Linked DNA regions of Homo sapiens: region 2 is linked to region 1. Evidence: fine-mapped expression QTL. Tissue or cell type: fibroblasts. Region 1 holds a variant in brackets; the other region holds the start of a gene. All regions are shown on one strand. Distances are from middle to middle.

Region 1 (2,844 bases):
ATGTACAAATAAAAGATTATTATAATTGGACCAAAGTTAAGTTTAAATCCATTCACATGTATATAATTAAGATATATAGGAATTATAATTACAGAAAAGAATGTTACAAACCTTCACAAAGTAAAAATATTTTTATATCAGATAGATTCTTCTGTTTCAATCCATAAAACCAGGGTTTGGATCATTTTAAAAAAACAAACAAAAATAATTTATTGGAATCATTAGGGAGGACCTGATAGAATAAAATGACAAGCTGACCAAATAGGCCTTAGAAGGGAGAGGTGCCTGGGCAGTTACAAGGACCTAGGTAGCAGGGGTGACTTGGCCACAGTCATTTTCTTTACTTGATTTAAGGAGGTTAAATTACAGTGAGAGAGTTGCACTTATTTAGTTTGCATACCGTACTCAACTCTTAGCTAGCATAGGGCAGGTTCCTTAGTTGAAAAATTTCCACAAAACATGATGTAAAGTGGAAAGATCAGTTCCCCCAAAGAATATCAGTTACCAAAGTAGGATGAAAGGATGTTGGGTAGATCAAAACAACAAATGTCCATTACAGCAATTAACAAAAGTTAGGGAGTGGGGAAGTCTGAGTGCTAATATGGATTTCAAAACAACTTTAAAAATGGCTTCAAACATTTTATGCTTTTTGTAATTTAGTCATTTTAATATTAGATAAATCTTCCTGTAACTGAAAGTTCTTGAGTTAAAGAAAAATATTCGGTAGTTCAGCTCTTCCTTCAATTTTATTAGTTGCTTTTTCTTTTGTTCAAGTGAAATAAACATAAAAATAATTTTAAAATATTATGTATCATATCCTTCGATTTAACATAATTCTATCTAGCTGTTCTTATATTTTCTCTGATATATTTTTAAAAGCTTTCTGGAATATTATTAACCTTGAATATTTCTAGTTGATGAGTTTATGAGTGATTTATTGCTTCCTTTTCTCTTTCAGTATTGCTAGAATTAATTTTATTGACTTTGCCCCTTTGCATAAAGACCTTGAAGGTCACATGCTGAAATCGCCCTCTACTAAAACAAACTCATAGAAATAATGGGGAAGATATTTCAAAACATTGCCATATGCATAGCCATCCTCACAACCAAGAAAAGCGCCTCTCCATGAACTAAAACCTATGAGTCATTGGTACAGGTAGGGAAAATCTAGGTAAACCACGGTAATACACTGAGGCTGGCACCACCACAGGCCAGGACAACCGTTGTCACAAAGCCAGGACAGAATCTCCCAGCCAGAAAGTGTTGCCCTGAGGCTGAAGCCAAATTCATTTTGCCCCCAGTTGGCCAGACCAAAGCCTAGAACTAAAAAACCCATACCTCAGGGTTTGTCAGCATTGGCACTGCTGGCTTTTTGGGCTGGACAACCATTTATTGTGAGAGGCTTCTCTATGCACTGTAGGATGTTTAGCAGCATCCTTGGCCCTACTCCCTAGACGCCAGTAGCAAATCCACCACCCTCCCTCCCCTACCCCAGGGTTGGTTGTCAGTTGTGACAACCAAAAATGTCTCCAGACATCGCCAAATGTCCCTTGGGGGGTAAAATCACCACCACCATACCTCTTTTGACTAAAAGAGTTTCCAGAATAGTGGCAGAATATATAGGTCAAGCATAACACATTACAATCAAGATTCAGAACATCAAAGATTCTTTTTTAATCCTAAAAGAAAAAGTTTGGAAAATCTACAAAAAGAAGTGTGAATTTGACAATAACTATTTCACTA[G/A]CAAGGGTAGACGTAAGCAGAATACAGGTAGCATATTCAAACTGCTGTGGAAAAACAACATCAAACCTAGACTTCTCTCCCCAAACTATCATTCAGAGTCGAGGGCAAAATAAATAGATTTTCTGACTTGGAACAAGTAGGAATAATGTACTTATAGTATTCATCTTCATACAGGGATGGACTATAAGTGATTTTTAAAAAACTTCCTACTTGTTCCAAGTCAGAAAAACTATTCATATAGGGATGGGCTATTAGCAAGAGTATATGAATAACGTACTATAACAAGAAAAAATGAATTGAGAAGAAAGTAGTGGTTTTAAGAAGGAAAGGAGAACAAATAAATTAGTGAAACATAAGGTTAAGTCTATACATATTATTTTCTAATTGCCTATTATGTCAGACTACATGTAGTTAGAAAATACGATGAAAGAAAAAGCCATATTATAATTCCAACAAAAAGATAAAATAATTAAGAATAACTGCAACAAGAAAATATAAGTTCTGCAACAATAAAACTATACAATGAAACTAAAGAGCACAAAAAAGAACTTAAACAGATAAAAAGCAGACCACGTTTTTGGATAAGAAGATTAAAAATTATAAATATATCAATTTTCACTGTTAATCTATAAATTCAGTGTAATCCCAATAAAAATGCCAACAGGTTTTCCCCAATAGCATTGAAATGATTTTAAAATTTAATGAAGGCCAAGCATGGTGGCTCACTCCTGTAATCCCAGCACTTTGAGAGGCCGAGGCAGGTGGATTGCCTGAGTCCAGGAGTTCCAGACCAGCCTGGACAACATGGTGAAATCCCGTCTCTATTTAAAATGCAAGAAATTAGCTGGGTGTGGTGGTGTGCACCTATAGTCCTAGCTACTCGGGAGGCTGAGGTGGGAGAATCACCCAAGCCTTGGGAGGTCGAGGCTGTAGTGAGCCAAAATCACATCACTGCACTCCAGTCTGGGCAGCCAGAGTGAGACCCTGTCTCAAAAAAAAAAAAATTATTGGAAACTACGAGGCAAGAATATCCAAGAAAAATCTAGAAAAGAAGAAACCTGAGTGAGTCAGCATGACCAAATATTAAAACATCTTATAAAG
Region 2 (2,660 bases), 28 kb before region 1:
TGCGGGTTCTTGAGAAGTGAGTAAGACTTCCAGCGCCCCGGCCCAGACTGCGACGACCCAGACTGCGACGACCCAGTCTGCGCCTGGCGCAGGCTCCATAGACGGCTTTTCTTCAGCTCTGTCCACTGAGACCTCGAGCCCTTGAGCAGAAGATGGGAGAGAGAGGGTCTTGCTGGGCGGGCTCCAGAAGTCCTCCTGGCTCTGGGCGCAGGAGTTGGAAGAGAAGAGATAGAGAAACATCTACTCACCAGAATTGTAAACTGGAAGAAGGGTAGAGGAAAGGTGCCTAGAGAGGGCAGCTGGAATCAGGATTGGGCTGAATATTTTAGGAGTCCCCAAGTGCTACTTCTATCCGCTGGGAGCACGGGTTCGAATCTGCCCCCAGGCAGCCCGCTCCTGGTTCTCTTGTCCCCCTGTGCTGCGGCGGGGCCCACTTCGGCCCTCGGGTTCCCCGCACAGGCCACACAGGGCAGCAGCGCGCGCCGTACCCACGGGCAGTTCGAGAGGGCCGCGCGTGGCGGAGCCAGGCCCTTCGCCAGCGCCCAGTACAAATTTAGTACTAGAATTAAGAGAAACACACTGAAATCTGACAGCCCCGCCTAAGACCCGGGCGTGAGGAAGTCTGCGGTGGGTGATGAATACAAAGAACAGTTTCTCTTTCCTGTCAGTAAAACGCTGTTTCCAGAGCCTGCCAGGTTTCGCCCCAGTGGCCACACCTATGCCTGGCAGGTGCTGGTCCGAGCCCCTAGCGCCAGCAAAAGAAAGGAGGCGGACGCAACATTCTCGAATTACTAGGAGAAGGAGGGAGGCTTTCCCTTCCCCCCAGTGCCCCATGTACCAACGCGTCTCGCCATACCCCTTGCCCCTCTTCCAGCAGCTGACGGAGTAATTCGAGTAGGAATCGAAAGATTTGGAGGCGCCGGGGGAGAAACCTGCGGAGCGCTCTCCGAGCCTGTGGCGTCCCAGGAAGACTCCGAGCGGGGCCAGGGAAGTTCTCTGGAGGACATGGGGTGGATACCCAGGTCTCCTTCCCTGGGTGAAATAAGAACTGAAAATCTAAAAATAAAATAAATAAAATAAAATAGAAAACACAGAGAAGCAACAAAAAAGCGCTTCCCCTCCTCAGTTCTCCCCAGTCCACCCAAGGTTTACCAAGACTGTTGTAGTTGCAAGAGTGGGCTTCCGGCTCCACGTAACGATGCGATTGGGCTGTACCTCTGTCTGTCTCCTGCGCGATGTCCCGCCCCGGGAGGTGTCACGGAACTCAGCTGATATAAGCCCGGGATCCCGCCGGGTCAGGTTCTCTGCTCTGGACTTGGGAGGCTCCGTTGCCTGCTCCCGGAGGGAGACGCGCTGCCGAGGAGAACCCAGCGGGTAATGAATCCCCCGCGCTTCTTTGCCCAGGCCTTCCCCAAACCTCCCCCCGGTCTGCGCGGGTTCTCCTATTGGGCTGTGGTGAAGACAAGGTGCGGCGACTGCAGCTCCCCAGGTCTGGGCGCTGCCGGGAGAGAGTCTTTCCCGCTGGGGAGATTTAGTTTGTTGACTCAGGAGCACCTCCAACGACAGCTAGTGGCAGAGGACCCGGGAGCTGGGAGGTTCGGAACGCGGGGCGAGCTGGGGAGGAGGGAGAGGCGCCGACCCAGCGCAGCCTACATCTTAGCAAACCAAACCTGGCAACATTTCCCCACGGTTCAGGAGCACGAAGGACTTAAGGGAAAACGACGAAATCGGGGCTCCCGAGGATGAAGTTAAATGGGTTGTGGCCTGGGGACAAATAGGGCCAATGTCCAGTCTATTACAAGAGGCTTTGTTCCAGAGGCTTGCCTATAAGCCCCTGGCTTGGAACGTCAGTCTTCAAACTGTAACAACAGGGGCAGGCTACTAGGGTAGCCCACAAAGCCCTGTATCCCCCATACAGTGACTAACTAGAGCCCTAGTTGGTCATATCCGCAGTGGCTGAGACTGCGGTGTGATTCCGTTTCCCTCTTGCATGTGTCCCGGGAGCCCGAGTTGTCGAAGCCCAAATTCAGGCTCAGGAACCTGATGTGCTGTTGATGCCAAACACTGACACACAGATGCTTGGAGACAGAGGAAGATTTATTCCATTTGGCCAAAGCGAGAAGGCAAGAGGTCAAGATCTCTCAAATCCACCCTAACAAAAAGAAGTAGTGGGGAGTTTTTATGAGACCAGGAAGTAAGGGAGGGGGAATTTCAGGGAACCTCGGGGAAAAGTCTTTCTTCGTCTCAGATTACATCTTGAACCACCAGACTTCTGGGCGTCAGCAGCTGGTCACAATGCCCTTAAAGGCATTCATTCCTTCTGCAAAATTTTTTTCTTGACTCTGAAGCTATATCCTCCTGCTTGACAAAGAAACGGTGCATCAGCAGTTTATAATTATATTGCTAGAAAAAGGAATATTGGGCAAAAAGTGGGTAGTTAACATATGCAAATAAGCAAGGGCCTCATCGGAATTTTCATGGTTTCATCACTAAAAATGTTGGGGTGCTGAAATCTTGAGGGGCTCGGTTGCACCAGAAGGGGATCCTTTGTCACTAGTGCAGGCAGGAAGGGATGCTTGAGGGAGGATGGGGGGAACTTTTCAATAGTTCCTCCCCTCCCCTACCAATAGCGGGTGGGAGGGCGTTGGTTTAGAGCCAAG

What was found. PIP is the estimated chance that this variant, and not a neighbour inherited with it, causes the effect.
Region 2: it holds the start of SLFN5, and the variant in region 1 is fine-mapped to the expression of SLFN5 in fibroblasts (GTEx, PIP 0.95).

Annotation. Positions count from the first base shown.
Region 1 is chr17:35,269,299-35,272,142 of GRCh38, forward strand. SLFN5 (schlafen family member 5) reads left to right here. Exons shown (of 5, transcript NM_144975.4): 5 at 1-2,844. Among named protein-coding and RNA genes, the nearest start is that of SLFN5, 28 kb to the left of the region's middle. The variant G/A (reference allele first, on the strand shown) is at 1,744.
Region 2 is chr17:35,241,770-35,244,429 of GRCh38, forward strand. It overlaps SLFN5 (schlafen family member 5), which reads left to right and starts at 1,303. Exons shown (of 5, transcript NM_144975.4): 1 at 1,303-1,374. LOC105371932 reads right to left here and starts at 2,382. Exons shown (of 4, transcript XM_047437262.1): 1 at 2,342-2,382; 2 at 1,153-1,450; 3 at 857-1,056; 4 at 1-201. The coding sequence starts at 2,382. RefSeq lists enhancers at 1,055-1,114, 1,635-1,744, 1,718-2,346.